Homo sapiens: one gene and its partners. The protein of the gene in region 1 interacts with the protein of each later gene in a pairwise test. Each region holds a gene or a part of one and is shown in the gene's direction. Other genes may lie near its edges. The genes, in order: TARDBP, TBX22, SOCS6 and TASOR2.

Region 1 (7,028 bases):
CGCCACTGCACTCCAGCCTAGGTGACAGAATGAGACTCCGTCTCAAAAAAAAAAAATTATCTCCCCTTCTCTTCTAAATAACCTAAGGTTGAGGTTATTTGGGGGGTTTTTTTGTTGTTGTTTGTTTGTTTGTTTTTTGAGACAGTCTCACTCTGTCGCCCAGGCTGGAGTGCAGTGGCACGATCTTGGCTCACTGCAACCTCCGCCTCCCAGGTTCAAGCAATTCTCTGCCTCAGCCTCATGAGTAGCTGGGATTACAGGTGCCTGCCACCACGCCTGGCTAATTTTTGTATTTTTATTTATTTATTTTTATTTGTTTATTTATTTTTTAGACGAAGTCTCGCCCTTGTCGCCCAGGCTGGAGTGCAGTGGCACGATCTTGGCTCACTGCAACCTCCGCCTCTTGGGTTCAAGCGATTCTCCTGCCTCAGCCTCCCAAGTAGCTGGGATTACAGGCACCTGCCACCACGCCCGGCTAATTTTTTCTTTATTTTTAGTATAGACGGCGTTTCACCATCTTGGCCAGGCTGGTCTTGAACTCCTGACCTTGTGATCCACCTGCCTCAGACTCCCAAAGTGCTGGGATTACAAGTGTGAGCCACCGCGCCCAGCCAGTTATGTTTTTTTAAGTAAGCCAAACTTTTGGTTTCTTTTTCTTTTTTGAAATTAGAGATGGAGGCTCTCGCTCTGTTGCCCAGGCATATTGCAGTGGCTATTCATAGGCACACTGCAGCCTCAAACTCCTGGACTCAAGTCGTCCTTCCTCCTCAGCCTCCTGAGTTGCTGGAACTTACAGGCATACACACCACTGTACCTGGTTTTCTGTTTTATTACAAAAGTTGTGTATTTGTTGTTGAATGTTTAGGAAAGATAAAAGTTAAATCTTCATCAGGATATACAAGTTGCTGATATTTAAAGTCAAAGTGAAGTAGAATTATTTTTGTTTTGATAAACCTTTTGAGAGGGAGAGATTGTAATCCGGAAATGCTACAAAAAACAAACTTGGAAATCACTGAATTTGCACCAGAAAAGCACCTCAGACACTAAACTTAAGCCTTTATTCTGTCCTCTAGAGCAAACATCACTTCTTGCCAAGTTTTCAGTGTCTTATTCTTCTTAGAGTCTTCTTTTTGCTTCTCATTTCTAGATGTAGGAGGTAGTGTTTTTAAAGAAGTGCTAAGTGAAGATTTCTAAAAGGTTTCTGCTCGTTTTATTTAGATAACAAAAGAAAAATGGATGAGACAGATGCTTCATCAGCAGTGAAAGTGAAAAGAGCAGTCCAGAAAACATCCGATTTAATAGTGTTGGGTCTCCCATGGAAAACAACCGAACAGGACCTGAAAGAGTATTTTAGTACCTTTGGAGAAGTTCTTATGGTGCAGGTAAACTTCGATTGCATCAAACAGTTTTTCTTTACCAGTGAATGAGTATCTAGCATTTATTTATTGGTATAAATAGAGATGGGGTATCACTATGTTCCCTAGGTTCTGGCGTCAAACTCCTGGGCCCATACTGTCCTCCTGCCTCGACCCCAATGTGCTGAGCCACCATGCCCAGCCACAATCTTGTTACCTTTCTTTTTTTTTTTTTTTTTTGGAGACCAAGTCTCACTTTGCTGCCCAGGCTGGAGTGCAGTGGCACGATCTTGGCTCACTGCAACCTCCACCTCCCGGGTTTAAGTGATTTCTCCTGTCTCGGCCTCCTGTATCTGGGATTACAGGTGCCCGCCATCATGCCTGGCTAATTTTGTATTTTTAGTAGAGACAGGGTTTCACCCGTTGGCCAGGCTGTTCTTGAACTCCTGACCTCAAGTGATCCACCTGCCTTGGCCTCCCAAAGTGCTGGGATTACAGGTGTGAGCCACCGCGCCCGGCCACATTCTTGTTATTTTAATGGCACTGTCCTTTCTGTTACACAGATGATACTTCCAATATTTGTTATATTTATACATATATGTTGTACCCTATGTTATTGCCTTTGATATTGTAAAATCCTACTGTTGCATGAAGGCTTAAGGGAAGTAGGTGACAATAGCTTTTCTTTATATATTAAACTAATGGGAGGTTTTTCCATTTCATTTAAAATTTGTAAACATTAAATTTAGTTTATCTTTGAATTCATTCTAAGACATTCTGTTAAAATCCTGTTGTGGTGGCTCATGCCTGTAATCCCAGCATTTTGGGAGGCTGAGGTGGGAGGGTTGCTTGAGGCCAGGAGTTCAAGGCCACCTTGGCGAACATATCCAGACTCAGTTTCTCTTTTTTCTTTTTTTTTTGAGACGGAGTCTTGCTCTGTCACCCAGGCTGGAGTGCAGTGGCATGATCTCGGCTCACTGCAAGCTCCGCTTCCCGGGTTCATGCCATTCTCCTGCCTCAGCCTCCCAAGTAGCTGGGACTACAGGTGCCTGCCACCACGCCTGGCTAATTTTTTGTATTTTTAGTAGAGATGGGGTTTCACCGTGTTAGGCAGGATGGTCTCGATCTCCTGACCTCATGATCTGCCCGCCTCCGCCTCCCAAAGTGCTGGGATTACAGGCGTGAGCTACTGTGCCTGGCCTCTCTTTTTTTCTTTTCTTTTTGGAGACAGGGTCTGGCTCTGTCAGTCAGGCTCTAGAGTGCAGTGGTGCAATGTAGGCTCGCTGCAACCTCCACCTCCTGGGTTCAAGCTATTCTTGTGCCTCAGCCTCCCAAGTAGCTGGGACTACAGGTGCATGCCACTACACCTGGCTAATCTTTGTATTTTTTGTAGAGACAGGGTTTTGCTGTGTTGCCCAGGCTGGTCCTGAACTCCTGTGCTCAAGCGATCCACCCTCCTCAGCATCCCAAAGCACTGGGAATACAGGTGTGAGCCACCGCGCCTGGCCCCATCTCTCTTTTTTAAAAAACTCAAAAACATTTCTGTTGTATAAGTGAGTTTTGCTCTGTTGTTAACACAGTATGGATTCAATATTAACCTCCTTGTTTTTACTGTTAAGACTAACTTGGTTTAAGTTTTAAGCCACTGCATCCAGTTGAAACCATTCAAATTGTTTTCTAAGGAACTATGATTTGGGAATGGAGTGTGTGAGTATGTGCACTTTTAGAGTAAACTTGTATCATCCTTTCTAGGTCAAGAAAGATCTTAAGACTGGTCATTCAAAGGGGTTTGGCTTTGTTCGTTTTACGGAATATGAAACACAAGTGAAAGTAATGTCACAGCGACATATGATAGATGGACGATGGTGTGACTGCAAACTTCCTAATTCTAAGGTACTTGCGTCTGTGCTTTGGGAATTTTTGCCAACAAACTTCCTTAGAGGATTGTAAGATAAAATGTTAAACACACTTAGAAAAGATAGCGGCAGGGTGTGTTCATGAAATCCTTTTGTCTTGTTGAAGTCTTTGGCCCTTAGTGCATGCTGAATATTTTATGCTTGTTTGAAATATTTAGTTTATTACTTCTCCAAACTAAACCTTTGTTCATTTTGTTCTTCCTTTTCGCTATGGATGGAAAAGAGAAAAGGTTATTTGTCAAGTTAATAGTTTCTTACATAGTTATATGTTAAAACATAAAGAGAATCAGAATACATACATTAATTGTTATAAAGACCTAACTTTTTCCAAGCAAACAAATAACATTGGCTTATTTGGAACATCATCATCTTTGCCAAGAGATTGCTTATTTATTAATTTTCTCAAATCCAAACACAGTCATGTATCACATGGCAAAGTTGATCAGTCAGCAGCAGACCTCGTGTACAGCAGTGGTCCCATAGGATTATAACACTGTTTTTACTGTACCCTTTCTATGTTTAGATACACAAATACTTACCATCATGTTATAGTCGCCTACAGTGTTGAGTACAGTAACTTGAAAGTTTGTGGCCTGGGAGCAATAGGCTATACCATCTAGCCTAGATGTGGGGTAGGCTATGCTATCTGGGTTTATATGATGTTTGCACAACGACTTTTTTTTTTTGAGAGAGAGAGTCTCACTCTGTCATCCGGGCTGGAGTGCAGTGGTGCAATCTCAGCTCACTGCAAGCTCTGCCTCCCGGGTTCACGTCGTTCTCCTGCCTCAGCCTGCCGAGTAGCTGGGACTACAGGTGCCCACCAACACGCCTGGCTAATTTTTTGTATTTTTAGTAGAGATGGGGTTTCACCGTGTTAGCCAGGATGGTCTTGATCTCCTGACTTCATGATCCGCCCATCTCGGGCTCCCAAAGTGCTGGGATTACAGGTGTGAGCCACCGCACCTGGCCCTTTTTTTTTTTTTTTGAGATGGAGTTTCACTCTTATTGCTCAGGCTGGAGTGCAATGGTGCAATCTTGGCTCACTGCAACCTCCTCTTCCGGGTTCAAGTGATTCTCCTACCTCAGCCTCCCAAGATGCTGGGATTACAGGTGCCTGCCACCACACCCGGCTGATTTTTGTATTAGTAGAGGTGGGGTTTCACCATGTTGACCAGGCTGGTTTGAACTCCTGACCTCAAGTGATCCACCCGCCTCGGCCTCTCAAAGTGCTGGGATTACAGGTGTCAGCCACCACACCTGGCCACGATGATGAAATTGTGTAATGGCTCATGATGTATTTATATCCATCATTATGTGATGCATGACTGTGTACTTTTGTAACTTAAAACGTTACTCTTCACTGAAGCCTTACAAGAAAAAGAAATGCTGATGGAAAAAATTAAGGGTACGTCTACTTTTTAATGGTTCACTGCTATCCAAGGCGAATGATTTTGTTATATCCCTTACCTTAATGTTTTTTTCATTGTTCATAACATATTTCTGAGTTTTTTTCTTCCTTTTGATTTGATCAGCAAAGCCAAGATGAGCCTTTGAGAAGCAGAAAAGTGTTTGTGGGGCGCTGTACAGAGGACATGACTGAGGATGAGCTGCGGGAGTTCTTCTCTCAGTACGGGGATGTGATGGATGTCTTCATCCCCAAGCCATTCAGGGCCTTTGCCTTTGTTACATTTGCAGATGATCAGGTATTTTTCTCCTTAACGATATGTCCCGGCCGGGCGTGGTGGCTCATGCTTACAATCCCAGCACTTTGGAGGCCGAGGCGGGTGGATCACGAGGTCAGGAGATCAAGACCATCCTGGCCAACATGGTGAAACCCCGTCTCTATTAAAATACAAAAAAAAAAAAAAATAGCTCGGTGTGGTGGTGCACGCCTGTGGTCCCAGCTACTCTGGAGCCTGAGGCAGGGGAATCGCTTGAACCCAGGAGGCGGAGGTGGCAGTGAACTGAGATCACACCACTGCATTCCAGCCCAGTGACAGAGTGAGACTCTGTCTCAAAAAAAAAAATATGTCCCAGGTAATTAGGTAATTTCTCTTGAACATTGCCCATGCAGCTAATTGCTATTCTTAGCTAAGTTTTCTGACCTTGTAAGACGTAGGGTGTATGGGCCTAGATGTTTGTGATACCTGTATCTGATATCACAAATACAACATTTTAAGAAATCTAAAAGTAAATATGCCTTTAGATAATTTTCAGTATGTGGCATTTGGGAATGTTATATACTTTTTTTTTTTTTTTGAGACAGAGTTTTGCTCTTGTTGCCCGGGCTGGAGTGTGATGGCGCGATCTTGGCTCGCTGCATCCTCCACCTCATGGGTTCAAGCGATTGTCTTGGCTCAGCCTCCTGAGTAGCTGGGATTACAGGTGCCTGCCACCACGCCTGGCTGATTTTTTTGTGCTTTTAGTAGAGACAGGGTTTCACCATGTTGGCCAGGCTGGTCTCGAACTCCTGACCTCAGGTGATCTGCCCATCTCAGCCTCCCAAAGTGCTGGGATTACAGGCATGAGCCACCACGCCTGGCCAGTTTTTTGTATCTTTAGTAGATAACGGGGTTTCACTGTTTTGATCTGGCTGGTCTTGAACTCCTGACCTCAGGTGATCCACCCCCCTCAGCCTCCCAAAGTGCTGGGATTACAGGCGTGAGCCACTGCTCCTGCTCCCGGCCCATTTTTTAAATTATTATTTTGAGACAGGGTCTCACTCTGTTGCCCAGGCTGGTGGAACACAGTGGTGTAATCATAGCTCACTACACCCTAGAACTCCTGGGCTCAGCCTCCAGGGGGAGGATCCTCCAGCTTCAGCCTCCCAAGTAGCTAGGACAGATGCATGCCACTACGCCCAGCTAATGTGGCTTTTTTGTGGTTTTTTTTGATAGAGGTGGGGTCTCCCTGTGTTGTCTAGGCTGCCAGGCTAGTCTTGAACTATTGGCCTCACACAGTCCTCCCACCTTGGCCTCCCAAAGCGCTAGGATTACAGGCATGAGCCACCATGCCCAGCCTATGTCTTTTGAAAATCGACTGAAATATCACTGCTGCTGTTAATAAAACTAAAAGCTGTATTGGGGGTTTAAATGAAATGAGTGTTCATTGCTTATTTTTCCTCTGGCTTTAGATAAATTAATGCTTGTAATCTAAGTTTTGTTGCTACTTTAAATATATGAATCAGTGGTTTAATCTTCTTTGTTTACATCCCTTATTTCTTATAGATTGCGCAGTCTCTTTGTGGAGAGGACTTGATCATTAAAGGAATCAGCGTTCATATATCCAATGCCGAACCTAAGCACAATAGCAATAGACAGTTAGAAAGAAGTGGAAGATTTGGTGGTAATCCAGGTGGCTTTGGGAATCAGGGTGGATTTGGTAATAGCAGAGGGGGTGGAGCTGGTTTGGGAAACAATCAAGGTAGTAATATGGGTGGTGGGATGAACTTTGGTGCGTTCAGCATTAATCCAGCCATGATGGCTGCCGCCCAGGCAGCACTACAGAGCAGTTGGGGTATGATGGGCATGTTAGCCAGCCAGCAGAACCAGTCAGGCCCATCGGGTAATAACCAAAACCAAGGCAACATGCAGAGGGAGCCAAACCAGGCCTTCGGTTCTGGAAATAACTCTTATAGTGGCTCTAATTCTGGTGCAGCAATTGGTTGGGGATCAGCATCCAATGCAGGGTCGGGCAGTGGTTTTAATGGAGGCTTTGGCTCAAGCATGGATTCTAAGTCTTCTGGCTGGGGAATGTA
Region 2 (7,025 bases), on another chromosome or scaffold:
AGACATGGCTTTAAAATATTAAAATAAGTTCACCAATGTGAAATACACACTTGCATCATTGTGTTAAAATTTGTAATTGAAAATTTGAATACAGGGTTGTATTTAAGATTTTCTAGAGAATAAAGCCTAAATTTCATCAAAGTATAATTATTGTAACTGGTTCAATAGATTATTCTTAGGCTAACATATATGTGTAAATTCATTAAATTAATAATTGTTTGCAAGTTAATATCCAAAGTTATCTCATTGGGCTCCCTAGGTGATGATGTGCTAATTGCCCCTGGAGCTGGCCACTTGTATTTTTTTAAATAGAGGTAACTGGCAAATCTGGACACAGTTAAGCAATTATGCTAAGTAAGAGAGAGAATGCTGTCTGAAATTCTAGCCAACAATTATCCATTAATCATGTCCAATATTTTTTTTCTATGGATGGTAAAAAATAAACCGCCTAAACTCTCCCAATTTAAAAATATGAGTGGCATTTTGTTACATTCCGGCAAGGGGAATAATATCAGAAACTTCTTGGCTTCTCACAAAATAGTGTTTTTAATAAATCGATGGCGCCCTGGATCATGGTCTTTCAAAGGTCATGCTGGTCCAGGAAGATACTGGGAAGCTGAATCACAGGTCGGATGATATAACTGGGTAATAGGGATTCAGAGGAGCACCGGAAAATGGCACTTGTGCTTTGACTTTCTAAAGTGTTTGTAAAACGGCCTGTTTGACCCAGACAGAGCTTTACTATCACAGGAAAGTGCTTTTGGAGTCCCTGATGAGTGCAGCAACCTCACCCCAAACTTTTGAGCACATCTTGGCGCCCAGAGCAGCCATTCGCGACCTAAATTACTAAGTCAAGATTCAAGCTCTACAGCAGCAAAGGTCCTGTGAGGTACGCTTGGCTGGAAGAAAGCTAGGTATCTGGCTCTGCCCAGAAGGCGCCCGCTCCGCAAACTGCTGGGAAGTTCTGGTTTGTTCCAAGAGTAGCACCAAGGAGACAAAGGAACATGCAAAATAGGATAGCTTATGCTGGCTGCAAGAAGCTGCAGTCGGGTTTTTGCCCCTGGGCCCTCTGATAATCACCGCAGGGACTTGGGGCAGGAGCAGGCTATTGGAATGATGGCAGACGGTTTAAAATTCCTTACTTGCTGATCCCTGAGCAGTGGTCTTGTAGAGTCACCACAGCACTGGAGATTGGCAGCTAGCTCCACCACTAATGTGCTCTCTTAAATCTCGATTACTTGAGGCGGATAATGGAAGAATGAAGTTACCTACCTGATTTGTTATTGTTGCTGCTGTGAGGTTTAAGAGTTAACATGTAGCAACATGAGGATTAAGAGTTAACATGTAGCAAGATAGCAAGCTTAAAAAAAGAAAGAGAAAGACAGAAAGAATGAAAGAAAAGAAAGAAAGAAGGAAGAAAGAGAAAGAAGAGAAAGAAAGAAAGAAAGAAAGAAAGAAAGAAAGAAAGAAAGAAAGAAAGAAAGAAAGAAAGAAAGAGGTAGTGGTTATTGTTGGAGGCCTCACACCTGTGAGTGGTATCGCCCCAGAACTCTGTCAAAGTCTCCTGAATCTTGAGAAGCCAAGCCCTTGTTCTCTTCTATTGGGCTGCTTCCTCGGGTACGACTTTGTAGGAGCCACCAGGAATTAAGTGCACCTGCTAAGGTCATGAGACAAGATGAGCCTCTTTGGAATGCCAAAATTTGCCCCCAGCAGACCGCACTGCTGCGTCTACCCAGGCAGTATACATCTAGCCCTTCACATGTAATCATGTTGAATTGAGTTTTTGGCAACACTTGTCCCTGGCTAACTACCTGATTCTGCGGAGCGTCAGAGCCTGGTCTCTCAAAAGCCCTCTCCCCAAAGGCCAGAAGTGAAGTTTCCCCCGGCCGTCATGGCCCTGAAACGGAGCACTGCAGAGCTCACAGAGGGGAGTGGAGATGGGAAGAAAGACACTGTTTCCTGAGTTGCCTGGATAGGATTATTTATGACGTAGCCACAAGCCTCTTCTGCTACAGCAGGCGGAGACCTTGCCACCTCAGGATTATGCTGCCACTTGCACTTAGCCTTCTTCCCGCATATACACACCCAGCGACATAAAAAGGGCACTCCTGCCCTGAGTTTGGAAATGATGTTTTGTGATGAGAGTCTAGTCCTGGTGGCTCACTCCTCACTGTCTATTGCTCACCGGCACGGAAAACTCTCTTTCATTCATAAATAATTGCCTTGCGCATTACTGTAGAAGAAAACTTAGTTAACAAATTCCTTTGTTTTGCTTGTGAAGTTACCAGATTTGGTTAGTAATTGCCTGCTTGATCAAAAGCCATTTCCTTCGTGGTTAACCAAACATCAACTTGTCTCTGTTGGGCCCGTTTTAAATATCACCAAAAGTGAACAGCCCCAATTACGACAGGAAACACATTTCCCGACATTAAACAAGGAACAGAAACAGATTTGTCGTGTTTCAAAATGCACATAGTTCTATGGATGGGCTCACATGCTGTTCTTATTTGCAACCTTCTCTCCCTAAACAAACACACAGGAGCGCGAAGACACAAACACATTCTTCTTTCAGTGGGTGTAGAAGGATTCTTGGAAAATCCTGTCTCTGAGTTATCTTCAAAAATGGCTGAAACTTATTACTGTGACACTTTTTAACTTGAAAATCAAGATAAAGTAAAGGGGAAAGTCTAAAATAAAATAAAATACAATCACTATTTTACTTTTCTTGAAAGAAGGGAAAATATTTGCCAGGAAAAATACTTTAGAGAGACTGTAGTCCTCTTCAGACATTTAAAACTTTCACATGAGATAGTAAAATAAATTTAAAAATTAAAAAATAATCCCTTGAGTTTTTGTGTGGTTGACTGTGAGCTGCAAATCTCAGGAACACCGGAATGCATTTATAAACCCATCAGAAATATCACCGTCACTATTTGGCATTCAGTATTGATAAGAAATGCGTGGTCCTCCTTGGCCTCTGGTTTTTCAGGCAGGGTTATAACAGGCATTATCTGCTTCAGGGGTTTTATTTGGGAAATCCCCTGGGTCCTTCCTAGTTATCCATGGCACTGCGGTGTGGTAGCCCAATGCGGGGTAGCTGGGGTTTCCTGCATTACTTGAAAGGTATGGTGCTCTCTGCAATGGAGAAAATAAATTTAAAAGCTATAGAATTCGTCCAATTAAACCGCACTAATCCAGAATCTGTCTTCTCTTCTATGAGAGCCTCTTCACTAGAGGATAAAATGAGCATTGATTTTTCAAGTACCTATGGATCACTTATTGCTAGTAAATTCTTCTGACTTAGGGCCTTAAGCCCTTTTCGATTCTCTCTGAGCTGCCCTGGAGAAATAAACCAACAAGTAAAAATCAAACATGTTCTATTTTGCAGCAGAAAAATGTGTCAGCCAAGACATTTCTGGGATTCGCTGTGCATTAAATTGTGTGTGTGTGTGTGTGTATATGTGTGTGTGTTGGATCTTTCCTTTAGGAGGTGTAAAGTTTTGTTTATGTGGCGCTTGCAGACTGAGAGGGGGATCCTGGCCACTGAGAGTCTCTACACTGCCTGGGAATCACTGCCTGAGGCTGAATGGGTCTCTTAGTGGATGACTCCAGAGCTGAACCCCTTGAGTGGAGCTTCTGAGCTGCTGTTGTTGATTGAGGATTGAAAAGTGTTTTCCAACTGCAAGTGCTCCTGCTGGGCATGGAAATGAGCTGACTAGACTTGTAAAGTCAATCCACTCCTGCTTCAAAGGCATTTTTTCCCAAGTGCATTAGCCTGTAGCTCAGAGCAGGATGCAGCCAGGTATGGTTGCAACCGGGAGGCTGAGGTAGGATGCAGGGTGCCTGCAGCCTTGAGGCTCTGAAAGCTGAAATCACAGACTGTCATTGTGACTTCATGGCCAACCTTGAGTAACAGCAGGTCTTCTGTGGGAGAAGTTGCTGGAGTCCAACCCCGGAAGTAGCAAGTGCCTCTCCCACAGCTGAGGGCCAGAACACCACGTTCTCTTGTGCTCTGGCTCTAGGCCACTCTTCTCTGGGCTCTTGAGAAGAGCTGCTGCAGGCATTTGCAGAGTGAATGAGCTCTGACTGAGACTTGACTTCAGAACCACTGGGCTGGCCTGGCCTCTTGACACAGCAACACACTGCTTCTTGCCTTCCAGGTAAATACCTCTGCCTTACTGACCATGTTATGGGTTTTAGTGGGACATCAGTACAGGGATTCTCCTCAGCCTCTTCCTCTCCTGTTAACTATCACTAACCAAGTCCCTAACATTAGGAAAGTCCAACTGATAACTGTCAGTTTCATCTTTCATTAACTGGGGGTTTTGTGACAGAGATCTTGCAATCACTACTTCTCGGGGGACTGGAAGTAGAATATTAGTGCTCTTTAAAATTAATGAAGGCTAGACTTGTCCAGTCTGTTAAGAGTATGCTGTAATACCCAAAGAAGCCAGCAATAGTCCCTCTCCTAGGCAGCAATGCAGCCAGAAGGCTCCCAGGCCCAGGATACTATGCATTAGTGCTCACAGATCTTGTTTAGGGAGCTAGGGAGCAAGGGGAAGGGACGGGAGTGCCTCCTGGAAGGTGAGGACTGAAGCCAACGTGGAAGTCACTGAGCTGAGTGGCAGGTGTCTAACACTGAAAAGTGGCCCTAGCCAAGGGCTCTAAGTAGTGGTACTTTCTACCGAGGCTCTTCCCCAAGGAGCTCTAGATCCACAGAGGCAGAAGGATTATTTGATCTTCTTTGCACTCATTTGATTTCAGGAGGAGGTCTGAAGTCCCAAAGCATGGGCATTGGGGTGAGAGAGGGAACATCAAAGTGTGCCAAAAAAGATTGTTTTATTTTACTTATTCCTGATTTTTCTTACCAGAGCTTGAGCTCATACACCGCATTGTAACACAAACACACAAGCACACATACCACACACACACACATGCCTTCAAACTAGAGAAGGGGACTACAGAAAGCACCTGGCCATAAAAGGCATGTCAAGGAGTTTGCTGTAGGGTGGTGATATGGTTGCTTTGTTTCAGTTCAGCAGACTTATCTCCATGAAGACCTTATTGTTTTCTGTGATTTCTCTTTTGTATTTTTTAAAATTTGTCTTTATTTCTTAATTATTAAAACCTTCCCTTTTGCCCCTCGGAGCATTGATCAGGGTTTACTAACTACAAATATTTACTTCATGAAGGAGCAGTTTTTTCTCTAGTAATATTAATGTGGGGACCCTGGGAAGGAAGACAGTGTATGAAAGAAGGCATAGATTGGCTTCAAGCACAGGCAGTATAGGTGTTTGCCTATATTTGGTGTTTTGATAGACTTAGGGAAAATCCCTCAGCCTACTACCAAATATTTTTGAGTGTCAGTACATCTGTGGTTGTTAGGTATTGAAAAGCCCTGATTAAATACAGATAATTATGAGAATATGGAAAGAAGCCTTTAGTACCTTATTCGCATGTCCTAGGAATGATGAGGTAGGGTGCCAAGTTAAGAAGAGGAAAATATATTGTAAATATCCAGGAGTAAGTAAATAGTGAAAAGATTAGCACGAGATTTGGTGGGCCCAATGGAGTTCAGGATGATTTCTTTCTTAACAGAAGGATCTGCTTCTGTTGGGCTCATGGCTGCCCAAATTAGGCAGAGCCAGATGATGACTCACTGATCTGAGAACTGAGTGGAGTCATTTGGTGAGAAAGCGTGTGTAGGGGAAGAGGGTGTAAAGCAAGCATTTTTCTAGTTTTAGGAAGATAAAATAATTCCTCATAAACAGTATTTTTTTTCAATAATTCATTGATGCAATTAACTTGGCATATCTCCGTTCAAGTGATCTGAGCCAGTGATATTTTGCTATATGTCTGAATTATTTATTTTAAAATATCAAACTGGCACCTGCAGTCATTTTTCAAATCCTAGCCCACTTTCTTTGAGGCTGATGCATATAGCATATTTGGAGGTAACTCTGACTCTCATCCTCATTTTTAAAAAGGCAGCATGATGCCAGGTGCGGTGGCTCAAGCCTGTAATCCCAGCACTTTGGGAGGCTGAGGCAGGCAGATCACCTGAGGTCAGGAGTTCAAGACCAGCCTGGCCAACATGGTGAAACCCCGTCTCTACTAAAAATACAAAAATTAGTTGGGCGTGGTTGAACACGCCTGTAATCCCAGCTACTCAGGAGGCTGAGGCAGGAGAATCACCTGAAGCTGGGGGGCAGAGGTTGCAGTGAGCTGAGATTGTGCCATTGCACTCCAGCCTGGGCAACAGAGGGAGATTCTGTCTCAAAAAAAAAAAAAAAAAAAAGCATGAAAAAAAACAAAGAAAAGGAAAGAGGAAAGATGGGGGTGGAGTAGGTAAAAGAAATGTATAAGGCATAATACCCAAGTTAAAATGACCTAACCTAAAAATTCACATAGCACAAACTCTACCCATGAAAAAATATTATGTCCAGCAGTCCTGATTGAGCCTTCAGTTAATATATGACTGTGCAAGTGCCAATGGAGCACCAGAGAGGTAACATAAAAAGGAATAGGTTTGACACTAGTTTGGTGTTGTTTTTGTGTGTGTGTGTGTGTGTGTGTGTGTGTGTGTGTGTTTTCTTTAATTTTGTTCATTAGGTTTTGTAGAGACAGGATCTTGCTATGTTGCCCAGGATGATCTCGAACTCCTGGACTCAAGCTATCCTTTTCCCTCAGCCTCCCAAAGCACTGAGATTACAAGTGTGAGCCCATATACCTGGCCTTAAGCTCAATGTTTTAATGGAGAGTGTTTGAGGACTAAAAGAGACAGGATGCATTTATAATTATTTATTATTTTCACTGCTCCAGGAAGTCAAAGACAGCTGAAAGGTGACCATACAATGCCTCTTCTGGCAATTACTAGAATCACCATAGGGTAGAATTACATTTGGACTTTCAAAAAGGTTTTTTCTTTTTCGTTTATTCATTTATCCTGCTCAAAATTAGCCACGTACAAAATTGTCCCCATAATTCTGGTGGCAAATTTCCTAGGAAATTTTTAAAAATTCTAT
Region 3 (7,028 bases), on another chromosome or scaffold:
GCTGGAGTGCAGTGGTGTGATCTCAGCTCACTGCAGTCTCTGCTTCCTGGGCTCAAGTGATTCTCCTTCAGCCTCCAGAGTAGCTGGGATTATAGGTGTGAGCCATAATGCCTGGCTAATGTTGATATTTTTAGTAGAGACGGGGTTTCACCATGTTGGCCAGGCTGGTCTCGAACTCCTGGCCTCAAGTGTTCCACCCACCTCAGCTTCCCAGAGTGCTGGGATTATAGGCATGACCAATGGGTTTGAATGTTATAGAGTAAAAAAATTTTGTGTTATGGTTTTAGATTTTACAGGGCAATTTATCATTAAGAAACTATTATTCATTGAGTTTTGATATAGTATCAAAGAAAAATATCCATAGTTATATGAAAAGGTTATTAAATAAAATATATTGTTCCTTTTTCCAACTATGTATCTGGAGGAGGCTGAATTTTCTTCTTACAGGTAGTCCCCTATGCACAGTTTCAATTACCACAGTCGATAGTCATCTGAAGACAGCTAAGTGCAGTACAGTAAGATATTTTGCGAGAGAGAGAGTCCACATTCTCATAGCTTTTATTACAATATTTTGCTATAATTGTTTAATTTTATTATTAGTTATAGTTATTAATCTCTTACTGTACCTAACTTAAAAATTAAACTTTATCATAGGTATGTGTGTATAGGAAAAAAGCAAAGTATACTTGATATAGGGTTCTGTACTATATGTGGTTTCAGGAATCCACAGGGGATCCTGGGATGTATCCCTTGCAGATAAGAGAGGGCTACTGTACTGTAACAGATTCAGTGCAGAAGTAGATATGAGAGTCTAGCTGTCTTCCTTTAGTCAGGCAGAAGAGATTTACAGTAATGTCATGTGGTACCACTTTCACTGATTTTTATTATCATTCATGAAAATGTTATTTATGTTAACATGTAATGAGTATATTGTCATTTTAAAATAAATATAAAATTAGGCTGGGCATAGTGGCTCATACCTGTAATCCCAGCACTTTGGGAAGCTGAGGTAGGAGGATTGCTTGAGGCCAGGAGTTCAAGACCAGCCCGGGCAACATAGACCTCATCTCTACAAAAAGTAGACAAAATTAGCCAGGCGTGGTGGTGCGTGCCTATAGTACCAACTGCTCAGGAGGCTGAGGTGGGAGGATCTCTTGAACCCAGGAGGTTGAGGCTGCAGTGAGCCGAGATCATACCACTGCACTCTAGCCTGGCCAACACAGCGAGACTCTGATTCTGTGTCTTCAATAAATAAATAAATAACAAATTTTCTCAGTTTTTTTTTTTTTTTTTTTTTTTTTTGACAGAGTTTTCGCTCTTGTTGCCCAGGCTGGAGTGCAGTGGCGCAATCTTGGCTCACTGCAACCTCTGCCTCCCAGTCTCAAGCAATTCTTCTGCCTCAGCCTCCTGAGTAGCTGGGATTACAGGCACACGCCACCATGCCTGGCTATTTTTTTTTTTTTTTTTTTGTATTTTTAGTAGAGATGGGGTTTCACCACGTTGGCCAGGCTGGTCTCCAACTCCTGACCTCAGGTGATCCGCCTCGGCCTCCCAAAGTGCTGGGATTACAGAAGTGAGCCATCATGCCCCGCCTCTCGGTTTTATTTTCTAGTAGGGTACATTTCAAGAGATGCAACCCACATAAACAATGCTTCTTCCTGTCTTCCAATAATTTTTAAGAGAATAAAGGGGTTCTGAGACCAGAATGTTTGAGAACCACTGATGTAAGCAGTAGAATGACAGGTAGGACAGGTTGGCATAGGGGAAGAATGTGAGCTTTGCAAATAAACAGCCAGGTTCAGATTCTGGATCTGCTGTTGCTAGTAGCAAATTGTTTAACTTTGTTGGGCAAATTCCAGTCTCTCTGATAACCAGTTTCCTCATTTTATAAAATGGGGATAATAAAGCTGTTTTGTTTATTGAAGGTTAAGTAGTTGTTTGATCTTTTTAATTTTTTCATTATGTGTTATGATGACTGACAGACATGACTACCTCAAGTCATTTAAGAAAAGGTTGAAATTATTTGAAGAAGTTATCCTTTACCCATATGGATAAAGTTTATGTCTAAAGCTTTTTCCCTTGAAACTTTATATACATTTTCAAGTATATGTATAAACTTAAAATTTTACAATTAGAAAAGCAGTAAAACTAATTCAGAACATTTACTTAGGCACGAGACAGATGGTAATCCTATAAAAAGATGGCATATATTTTTGGATGTGCAAACAGAAAAACAGATACTCTTAAAAATTTTAGAGTAATCTTTGCCTAGAATATGAAGGGAAGAGATAAAAGACCATATGGCCTAATAGAACTTTTATAGTTTGTAATGTCTAGGATTGAATTTTGTTTCTTTAATATTAGTATTGATTAATAGCTTACTAATATGGATTGGTAGTTGAAAAAGGAATAATTTTCAAGCAGGTAATTGCCAAGTACTTTTACCGTGGTTGCTAGTCTCTCGTGTTTTGGGGTATGGGTGTGATAGTGGGAAGCACAACTATTTGAATCTCACATTTAGTAGGGTTAATCAGTTACTGATTCTGGCAGTTATAATAGTTCATTATGCTTGGGTAGAAGACATGCTACTAAGACACTGAGTTCACCTAATATACAACTTCATTTATTATTTAAAAGTAACTGGTGCTTCAAATATTTTAAGTTTTTTATTTTTTACAACTTATTCAGAAACATAGTACATGACAGTAGACTTTTAAAAATTGCTTCTTCCTTTTGGGGACATGATAGTACTGATCCCCTGATAGGTTGTCTAATCTGAGTGGTTTTTAGTAAGAATGATTCCATCTGCACACCACCCGAATCCTATCTGTAACTAAAAGGGGACAATTGTCAGGTTCTCTCTCTCCTGTCAGTTCCCACCTTGTGTACCATTATATTACTGAAGGGTTGATACTACAGTTTATCTGTTCATACATCTGTCTCTCCTACTGGATTAGGTGACCATCAGTTATTCATCAATCTGTGTATTGCCACACAGGGCTGAGCCAAGCTGACTCAGCAGAGGCCGAGTAGGGGCTTAGTAAAGGCAGAGTGAATTCATGAATGGGATCAAAGCTAGAGCCATAGTCTTGTGCCAAGAAACTGAGTGGCGCTAAACTGCTGATTTGGGAGGTCAGAATCTTGTTCTGGGCTTTATTAGCATTTCGCTCAAGTCAAGCGAATCACCTTGTCAAGTCATATGCAGAGAAGGCAGAACATGACGTTGGAGGAAAGAAAACATTCTACACAGTTTAAACACAGGGCCTTTGTAAAGTAGTGTTAGGATCACTTAACGTGGTTTATGGAACCAAGATTTTTTGCTGTGAAATGACTTTCAGAAAGTCTTTACAGAATTGAAATCCTGTCATTTCAGTGTAGAACAATGTACAAAAAAAGTTTAGAAAATATATTTCTGGATATAGAAGTAAAAATTTGCCATGGGAAATTGCAAAAAAAGAAGAGTAAGCAATAATAATTCTGGAAATATGTTTCATAATCTTCCAAATAGATCAAAACTAGACACATGGGTTTTTATGGGTGTACTTCAGAGATGAAGCTTTTCAACCTGCGCGCATTGAGCTTCTTCCTCCTCTGTGCATTGGGAACTTGAAGGTAAATGATTCTTGTTCTCAAGGAATTCTCGAGTATAGAGGAACATCTCTAGATAGTTTATTACAGATAATGAAATTCTTTTTGTTTATTTTGACACAAGCTTAAGTATTTAAAATATGCATCAGTTGTTGAGTTGACTAGGCTTGTTATTGCAGTTCTATGGAACGCCTTTACTGTCGTGCCAGGACACAGGCTGGGACATGGCAGGCAGCGGAGGAGCAGTCGGAGTCAGTGCTGAAGGAGTGCACAGGTCTAGCTAGAGTCCAGCTGGGAAGGATGTGGACACTGGCCCACACGTTAGAGTTTATACCAAAAAGCAAGGTGCCAAAAGAACAAAAGGTAGATGCAGGCTTGTTCTTTATAAACATCATCGGGCGGGGCATGGTAGCTCAGCCTGTAATCCCAGCACTTTGGGAGGCCGAGGCGGGCGGATCATAAGGTCAAGAGATCGAGACCATCCTGGCTAACACGATGAAACCCCGTCTCTATTAAAATACAAAAAACTTAGCTGAGTGTGGTGGTGGGCGTCTGTAGTCCCAGCTACTTGGGAGGCTGAGGCAGGAGAATGGCGTGAACCCAGGAGGCAGAGCTTGCAGTGAGCCGAGATCACGCCACTGCACTCCAGCCTGGGCGAAAGAGTGAGACTCATCTCAAAATAATAATAATAATAATAATAAAGTAAACATCATCAAATACTTGCCAAATGCTCATTGTGTAGTAGGCAGTGATCTGCTCTGCTGGGTGCAATAGAAAGAAAGCCCGGTCCTAACAGAGCTGACATTAAGAAAAGACTGGGGTGTTCTCGTTCAGAAGTTAAAGGATTAAAACTGACTAAAACAAAACTTTTGTGGAAATATTTTTTAATATGACTCTTTTTATATTTTTATTTTTTAGAAAATGGCTCCAAAGGTTAAATGAAGCAGGAAAAATACATAGATGCAGCCTTGCAGCCTCTCCAGATGTTTGGGGATAATATTCCAGATAGAAATATTGATCCCTTGGATTAGGTAACTAGTCATAATGAAGAAAATTAGTCTTAAAACCTTACGGAAATCTTTTAACTTGAATAAAAGTAAAGAAGAAACTGATTTCATGGTAGTACAACAACCATCGCTAGCCAGTGACTTTGGAAAAGATGATTCCTTATTTGGTAGCTGCTATGGTAAAGATATGGCCAGCTGCGATATCAACGGTGAAGATGAAAAAGGCGGAAAAAACAGATCAAAAAGCGAGAGCCTGATGGGTACGCTAAAAAGGCGGCTTTCTGCAAAACAGAAGTCAAAAGGCAAGGCGGGCACACCCTCTGGGAGCTCTGCCGACGAGGACACCTTCTCCTCCTCCTCAGCACCCATAGTCTTTAAAGACGTGAGAGCTCAGAGGCCGATAAGGTCCACGTCGCTCCGCAGCCATCACTACAGTCCCGCGCCGTGGCCTCTGCGGCCCACAAACTCCGAGGAGACCTGCATCAAGATGGAGGTGAGAGTCAAGGCCTTGGTTCACTCTTCCAGCCCGAGTCCAGCCCTGAATGGCGTCCGGAAGGATTTCCACGACCTCCAGTCTGAGACCACGTGCCAGGAGCAAGCCAATTCACTGAAGAGCTCGGCTTCTCATAATGGAGACCTGCATCTTCACCTGGATGAACATGTGCCTGTCGTTATTGGACTTATGCCTCAGGACTACATTCAGTATACTGTGCCTTTAGATGAGGGGATGTATCCTTTGGAAGGATCACGGAGCTATTGTCTGGACAGCTCTTCTCCCATGGAAGTCTCTGCGGTTCCTCCTCAAGTGGGAGGGCGCGCTTTCCCCGAGGATGAGAGTCAGGTAGACCAGGACCTAGTTGTCGCCCCAGAGATCTTCGTGGATCAGTCCGTGAATGGCTTGTTGATTGGCACCACGGGAGTCATGTTGCAGAGCCCGAGAGCGGGTCACGATGATGTCCCTCCACTCTCACCATTGCTACCTCCAATGCAGAATAATCAAATCCAAAGGAACTTCAGTGGACTCACTGGCACAGAAGCCCACGTGGCTGAAAGTATGCGCTGTCATTTGAATTTTGATCCGAACTCTGCTCCTGGGGTTGCAAGAGTTTATGACTCAGTGCAAAGTAGTGGTCCCATGGTTGTGACAAGCCTTACAGAGGAGCTGAAAAAACTTGCAAAGCAAGGATGGTACTGGGGACCAATCACACGTTGGGAGGCAGAAGGGAAGCTAGCAAACGTGCCAGATGGTTCTTTTCTTGTTCGGGACAGTTCTGACGACCGTTACCTTTTAAGCTTGAGCTTTCGCTCCCATGGTAAAACACTTCACACTAGAATTGAGCACTCAAATGGTAGGTTTAGCTTTTATGAACAGCCAGATGTGGAAGGACATACGTCCATAGTTGATCTAATTGAGCATTCAATCAGGGACTCTGAAAATGGAGCTTTTTGTTATTCAAGGTCTCGGCTGCCTGGATCTGCAACTTACCCCGTCAGACTGACCAACCCAGTGTCCCGGTTCATGCAGGTGCGCTCGTTGCAGTACCTGTGTCGTTTTGTTATACGTCAGTATACCAGAATAGACTTAATTCAGAAACTGCCTTTGCCAAACAAAATGAAGGATTATTTACAGGAGAAGCACTACTGAAAGATTGAGAACCCTGCATCTTGCACTTTGGGAATAAGAACAAGAGATTGAAATACAGTTTACAAACTTTCATTGCCATCAAAATCTTTTGCTGCCATAACTATTTCAGTTTTATGTGTAAAAGAGTCATCAGTTTGTTTAGGGGTGGGGAAGTGTCAGCAAGGTGTCTTGGGTTTATTTTGGTTCTTTAAAAAAGGGAAGTCTTGAGGTTTTAGAGGTGTGAATTATGTTTCATCAATGTGCAGAATAATCACAATGTGAATTATCAAATTCTCCTCAATGCCCCCCCCGCCCAGTCCTTTGCTGCTATCCACTGTGATTTTTATGCATTAAAAGCACATTTCATGTGTATTCAACCCTAAGTAAAGTTGAATGAAACTTAACAGAATGGAAATTGCTATGTCTTTTTAAATGGTCCATTTTCAAAAGACAGTGTTGAATAAACATACCTGTGTGATAAAACACAGAATTTACATATACACTGAAGATGAGTTTTTAATCTCTTACTTTAAAAAGATTTATTTAGAATCGTGAATTGACATAATCTTGGGTAATGGAACGGAGATCTGCAACATATCTTTTAACAACACTTTTTTCTAAATTATTTCTAAGGTTGTGCTAATTCTTTTGGTTGTGAAAAGTTGAATTTTTCTGTTGCCTTCGTTTTCATCTTCTAGTTTGTCTATTTTAATAAATGGCCTTACATTAAAAAATTGTAAAGAAATGTATACCACCAATTTAGAAATTGTTGCCTTTTCTGTAATTAAACTCGGGTACAAATTGGCATA
Region 4 (7,028 bases), on another chromosome or scaffold:
GGAGAGACTTCATTCTCTCCTATCTTTCTATGAGTTTTCTGTCTGGTTTTCCTGATTCTACTTTCTCCCTCATCTATTACTAGATGTTACTATCTCACAGAGAGTGAGAATTCAGAGAAAGAAATTGGATTGTTGTTTTGTTTTGTTTTGTTTTGAGATAGAATCTCACTCTGTCACCAGGCTGGAGTGCAGTAGCACGATCTCGGCTCACTGCAACCTCTGCCTCCCAGGTTCAAGCAGTTTTCCTGCCTCAGTCTCCCGAGTAGCTAGGACTACAGGTGCATGCCACCACGCCTGGCTAATTTTTGTATTTTTAGTAGAGATGGGGTTTAACCATTTTGGCCAGGATAGTCTCAACTTCTTGACCTCTTGACCTCATGCTCTGCCTGCCTCGGCCTCCCAAAGTGCTGGGATTACAGGTGTGAGCCACCACGCCCAGCCAGGTTTGTTTTTTTTAGTTTTTTTGTTTTTTTTTTCAACTTAAGCATACCCTGAGATTCTTTAAGTTTTTTCAGATTGTTTTATGACTGAAGATTTTTTTAAAAGCTCATCATGTCATTCAAAAACCCATATGCTGCAGTTTTGGCTTCCATACCAGATTTGAGCTCTTCTGCTTGTCCCTCTCGGGAGTTTATGGTGTGGCTGTACCTCCCCTCTCTGCGTTGTGCCTCTGCTGTTGCCACCGTGCTCCTTCCCCTGCGGCCCTCTGTGCCTCCCCCAGGCAACCTCTGCCCTTCAGGGGCCTGCAGCTAGATTTATCCCCACAGGGAGGCGTTTTCTCATGTTGTGACTGTAACTAATCTCTCACTTCTTTGGGATATTTGAGAACATTCTATAATTTAATTCATACTGTTTTCAATTCATCTGACATGTCTTGGTCCAATCTTTCCAATTTGTAAACATGAGAATAGGTAACATCTTGTGTTCCTAGCAGTGTCATTTGCATTCTTTGTACTGAATTGGCTTCAGATGTTTATTGACAAATTGATTAATGCGAGGAGGTATATAATTGCATACTGGCAGAAAAGTGAGCCCAGAAAATTTAAAGTTTCAAAATGTGTGTTCAAATACAGGCTGATTTGTATTGCAAATGTCTGTAGGTATTGTGCAGCCACATTCCAAGTTAACATTTTTGAATGACTACATTTAAATCTCTGAATTTTTTTCTTAAGCACCTATGTTAATCATTTTACTTCTTATACTTAAAATATCAACGTTTAAGAAGGCAGATGAAACATAGCCACATTGACCTCAGTTTGCAAATTACTGATTTAAATTAGAATCAAATGATAATTTTGAAGTCAGACAGTCCTTTTGTTAATGAAACATGATTTTCTGTCCTTTTTATTCACTGAACTTTTTTTTAATGTAGTTCCTTTGGCATTGTCTTATGTATGTCTTAAATAGAAATTATGGGTGGTGTTTTTTTAATTGGGAACCTGTAACACGTTAATAACTGGGTGATTTATGTGAGACTATAATATGTTAAACTACCATTTTTCTTTATTTTAATACAGTATCTTTTATATTAGGCCTTACTGGTAAGTAATATTTTGTGTAAGGGATAAGTAGATGGAGGCCATAATATTAACAAAGAATGAAATTAGCATCAGATCACAAAATTAATTTTATGTTTCCAGTATACCTGTGGGACTAACAAGACAATTATCTGCTTTGGGTCCTTTTCATCCACCTGTCCCCTTTGAGTTTGCTGTTTTAAATAAAAACTGGGCAGTCGTTGATCAGTTTAACCCTTTCCCCATGTATGTGCATGCCCTTGTCGTTCTAATTGATGACATCATAGGCTGGAGCTGTCTTCTCTTTAAATGTGTTACTCATTGGCCTTGGCTGGCAGGTTGTTAATTCATTTTGGACCTGCTACTATGATAAAGAGGAACATAGTTGGCTTTTCTGGTCATCTGTCTACCTGCAGCAGGGAATCATTGCCTAGCAGAGTTGTGAAGTTTATCCTTCATAATAACAGCATTTAGGAAGGAATAATGAATACGTTGAAAATACCAAGGGAAACCACTGGCAAATGTAAATGTTCTGATTAAGGGCATATGGATAGATTTGATTATCTGTAAAAGGGAACATTGTCAGTAGATTTGCTCTTTCTTGGATAATGTAAAAGGTCAATGTTTTTGGTAATGAAAGTAAAATTTTAAAAGGTAATGGAATTAATTGATGATTCTGAATACTCTTAGGACTTTTCTAATTTTTTATTTCTATCACATCATGTAATTAAAGATCAATATAGTTAAAATCATTTGAACTTAGGTAGTTTCTCTAATAAATCGCTTGTTCAGGGAAATGGTTCCTGAGAAAGTATGTTAGCAAACTCATACACACTTGAAACTTCTACATTCCTGTCCTTATTAGATTGTAAGCTCCCAAGGGCAGGACTCTCATCTTTTTTGGGTTTTTTTGTTTGTACATTTTTTGAGCTGAGCTGTATGTCTTCTGTGTAGATCAGTTCATATGTTTTTGAAGGATAATTTCTTTCTAAATTAATGTACACATTCCTTAAGACTTGTCCCTCTGGTTTAACACATTATAATCTGAGGGTTGAAAGAGACCTTAATCCAATAGAAAATTTTAATATGCAATATGTATAACATAAGTTTTATCTGAGGGTTGGAAGAGACCTTAATCTAATAGAAAATTTTAATATGCAATATATGTTACATAAGTTTTTCTCAGACATGTTGAATTAACCATCATAGTAATATGGCAGAGAGTTAATTCTATGACAAGCAAACATCTCTCTTTTTTTTTTCTTTTATACTGAAGTCAAAGGAGAAACTGCTTCAAAGCTTCAATCAGAAATTTCAAGAGGTTGTCAAGAAGATGGGATTAGCATAAATAGTGTTCAACCAGAAAATACCACAGCGGCTCACAATGATCTTCCTGAAAACTCCATCGTCAACTATGACTCCCAGGCCCTAAATATGTTAGCCGATCTAGCATTAAGCTCTGCTACTTCTTCCACACCAGTATCTGAGGCTAGAAATCTTCACTGTTCCTCTGAATTGCCACAAAATGATGTTTTGCTCTCTAAAGAAAATTCTTTGCGAGGTACATCTGACCATGAATATCATAGAGGAGTTAAAACTCAAAAAGGTGAATTACTACCTAACCCATCTTCTGATAGGAAGAGTAATTCTGGATCAGACTTAACAGTTAGCCAAGATGAAGAAAGCTTGGTTCCTTGTAGTCAGGCCCCTGCTAAAGCCCAGTCAGCACTTACTGAGGAAATGCTAGAATCTTCAGATGCAAGCCAAAGCTCTTCTGTTTCTGTGGAACATTCATATGCCCTGCTCCTTACAGAACATTCAAAGAAACATCTACAGGAGAGAGAGATACTAAGCCCTCTGTTTCCCAGGAATGGGACAAAAAGCCCTGAAGCAGCAACCCCAGTGGGGAAAGTCATGCCATTTCGGCATCAGCCCGGCCTTTTGCTTCAGCAAAAGCCTCCTGACGACCCCGTGGTGAAGCCCAAGGATCGACCACCGTCTGCCCGTGTGAAAAAATCTTCTTGCTCTCGTATAGTGCTTAGCTGTGATGACTCCGTTAAGATCACTTTCAAATGTGAAACAGAATATGCATTCAGTTTAGACAGCAAATATACCAACAACCCACTGGAGAAAACTGTAGTAAGAGCATTACATGGGTGAGTATGAGTGAAACTTAGTGAAAATGGATGAAACTTTTCTGTTGAGATGAATGTAGTGAGATGGGGAAACTTATGCCAAACTCTGGAGAAGGAGAAAGAAGTGTTGTGTTTAAAACCAGTAATTTGATAATAACATCAAGCAAACATGTTTCCTGGCAATTAAGAGTAACAGGCTGGTTTTCCCCCTGTGCTCATGTGGAGAAGTTTTTAAAGATAATTTTAGCCTAATGAATAGCTTTCCATTTTGCAATGCTCCCTCGTAAGCCCTTGTGGCTTTTGAATTTCAATTTTTAGATGAGATCTTAATGTAAAATAGTGTGAGATTTAGAAATAATGCTTTACAGACTGAATTCCAGAAGAAACATTTTAAAAATCACTGTAGCTTGGTAAATTGGTCAGATTGATAGGAGTAAGCAGTTTCACATAAGATTGTTCTATAGATCTCCCTTAAGAAGGAATCAAGTCAGTAATAACAGAGTGGTGAACAGCACAGGCTTTGGAGTGTAGACTAACCTAGATTTGAACCCGGGTTCTTTCCCTTTCTTACCTCCTGTGATCCTGGGCAAGTTTCTTGCTTCTGGACAGTGCTTCTTAATTGTGTGTGCTGCTCATCTAGAGATTTCACTGAACTGCAGATTTTGATGCATTCTCCTTGGGAGAGGCCTGACATTCTGCATTTCTAACAAATTTTCAGGTGATATCAATGGTGGATGACAGTCTGTGGCCAACATTTAATTATGTAGCTGTGTCCTGAGGTTACATATATTGAGATGCACAGTGACTGGCCAGTAGTAGTAATAAATGGTAACCATCACTGTTAGCAAGCATTCATTAGCTATATGAATTGACATTCAGCTCCCTATTAATGAACTGTTTCACATCTGACTATATGGACTCTACAGCTGTCAGGCTTTCTTCTATACACCTGTTCATATATACTCATAAGGGTCATTTCCTTAGAACTTCCTGTTTAGCTATTGCCCAACTCTGCAGCCCCCCTGACTTATGGTACTCCAGCGATCTGCCATCCTTTTGCCTGCCAGGTGGCCAGAAATGTTTTCTATTTCCCCTTACTGTTTCAGGATATTTTGCAGAACTGTAGTCTGAAAATAGTATAGTTCTGTTGAATTGCCCAGAGAGATATTTTATCTTCAGACTTTCTCAATTATTAGAAGAGAGACACAAAAATGGAAAATAAATGAATCAGCCAGACTTAGCAAAAGCATGGTGATGAGGATTTGGGTATTGGCGAAACCATTTCTATAATAAGTATTCTGTGTCCAGAGTGAATTTGTATGGTGTAAAAGACACGTGCTACCCATGTTCAGATCATGGTTCTGCCATACAGGTTTTGTGATTTGAAAGAAGGCAATTACATGTTCTGATTCTCAGTTCCCGTCTCTGTAAAATGAGTGGGTTAGATGGATAATTATTTGTTAAGTCAACTACATATTTACTCATTCATGTTTCATATCTGTAAATTTTAAAAATAAAAACAAAAACTAAGGAATATTGGAGGCACTTGCTTATGATAAGGTAATCAACTAAAATAACCATTTTCAATGATTTTCATGTGTTCTTTCTGTAAACTCTTAGGCCCTGGAATACTGATTTGCCTGATAATGTGGAAGAAGTGAAGCTTTTACTTCATATGTGGGTAGCTCTGTTTTACAGCAATCAGAACAAAATCATACGATCTTCCCGAAAGGTTGTAGAACACAGCAACCCAGCAAAATATGTGTCTATAAATAGCACGTTAGAATCTTGTGAGCTCCGTGAAATTGAGGAGTCCCTTGGTTTGGAAAAATGTTCTGCAGACTCTCTGTTGGAGACTAACGAAATTTCCAGGGCTCATGCTGCTGAAGTATCCTTCCGTGATCCTAACTGCTTGCTTCCTTTCATTAAAACACCACTTACCCAAGGCTTGGAACTCTGTGTACAAAATGAACAGAAAAAAACTTTTGCAAGAGAGTGTGATCCAGACACCCAAGAAGACCAGAATTTCATCTGTTCTTACAATAATGAGGTATGTAAAGCTGAATACCGTTAAATGTTGGCATTATTTTTGAAGAAAAAAATGTTTATATGTAAAATCACATTCAAAACAAGGCATTTTTAAATTTTAGGACAGTGAATTCTCAAGGTATGTAAAGAACTATTACACCAAAAACCTAGTTTTCATGAAGTGTCCTTGAATTGTCTGCAGGTAGAGCTTACCTGCCATCCCGATTGAAAAAAACCAGAGTAGAAAAATGTCACAGGGTCCACATGATCTGGGAGCCCAGCATAATTTGGGGCAAATTGCTTCTTTGCCTAATTTTTAAAAGAGGTGACTTAATACCTATCAAGTCTTATGTAGAATATTGTTTAAGGATCAAATATAGCAATAATAAATCTTAGATATACTTTGATAAACCTTAAAGTAAACTAAAATTAATTGTATTAAAATTATTTTTGAAGACAGATGCTGGAATAGTAAAATGCCAGACCTGTGAAAGAAGACCCATTGCAAATAACTATTTGTAAATATGGAAAATATACTTTGTTTTGTTCCTTGTTCTCAACTGACATTCAACCAGGCCAGATAATCCAAATTTTACCTGGAGCAAATCTAAAAGTTGTTAACAAAATTCTAAGCAAATGAATTGACAAAATTACCTACCTTTTAAAGTTTTCCGCCCAAATTTATTCTAGAATAATATTGCTTGGGTTTGGGCAGCATCTCTGATTCCTGTCTTAAGAAAGAGTAGACAGTGTTCCTATACCCGGGGTCACCGGGGACTTGGAGGTCCTTGGGTGAGCCTCATAGAACCCGTGAATATCTTCAAGTGATTGTCATCATCATGAGAATTAAAGATTTCTGGGTCACTGTGTGCCAGAAAGTAAGAGTTCTAAGCCCTTCACTCATATTAACTCAGTTCATTCTCAAATAAGTTAAAGACTATTAATCTCCCCATTACATAGATGACGAGACTAAAGCATAGAGAAGTAAAGAAATTGCCTAAAGTCACATAGAAAATTGTCAAGCCAAGATTCCAGTCTAGAAAACCTAAATGTTAACTATGTATGTGCTTTTTTTTTCCCCTAAAGATGGGGTTCAGCAGTTCCATCCTATTCTCAAAGAATTACATAAAATCCAGTTAAGAATCACCACCTTAGAATAAGAAAATATAGTCTAGTCAGGGAGATTTAAATTAATACATATATACATGCTAGTTTCTTATAAAATACCATTTGTCGTGGTAATATGTAATTAACTATCATCAGTACTAATTTTAGCAATGATTTTGGCAAGCCTGACTGTTCAAATCAGTGATTCCTAACAATCTCCTTAGTATGTACTTACGTAGGC

Evidence for each region.
Region 2: the proteins of TARDBP (region 1) and TBX22 interact in binary tests that used the Homo sapiens proteins (3 or more experiments, as listed by UniProt).
Region 3: the proteins of TARDBP (region 1) and SOCS6 interact in binary tests that used the Homo sapiens proteins (3 or more experiments, as listed by UniProt).
Region 4: the proteins of TARDBP (region 1) and TASOR2 interact in binary tests that used the Homo sapiens proteins (3 or more experiments, as listed by UniProt).

Annotation. Positions count from the first base shown.
Region 1 is NC_000001.11:11,015,626-11,022,653, forward strand, and holds part of TARDBP (TAR DNA-binding protein 43), read left to right. Parts: intron 1-1,218; coding exon 1,219-1,382; intron 1,383-3,107; coding exon 3,108-3,248; intron 3,249-4,803; coding exon 4,804-4,974; intron 4,975-6,498; coding exon 6,499-7,028. UniProt on the Homo sapiens protein: RNA-binding protein that is involved in various steps of RNA biogenesis and processing.
Region 2 is NC_000023.11:80,010,728-80,017,752, forward strand, and holds the start of TBX22 (T-box transcription factor TBX22), read left to right. Parts: upstream 1-4,025; 5' UTR 4,026-4,160; intron 4,161-7,025. UniProt on the Homo sapiens protein: Probable transcriptional regulator involved in developmental processes. This is major determinant crucial to palatogenesis.
Region 3 is NC_000018.10:70,320,037-70,327,064, forward strand, and holds part of SOCS6 (suppressor of cytokine signaling 6), read left to right. Parts: intron 1-1,566; exon of another isoform or gene 1,567-3,612; intron 3,613-4,506; 5' UTR 4,507-4,632; coding exon 4,633-6,240; 3' UTR 6,241-7,028. UniProt on the Homo sapiens protein: SOCS family proteins form part of a classical negative feedback system that regulates cytokine signal transduction.
Region 4 is NC_000010.11:5,736,825-5,743,852, forward strand, and holds part of TASOR2 (protein TASOR 2), read left to right. Parts: intron 1-2,793; coding exon 2,794-3,673; intron 3,674-5,272; coding exon 5,273-5,702; intron 5,703-7,028.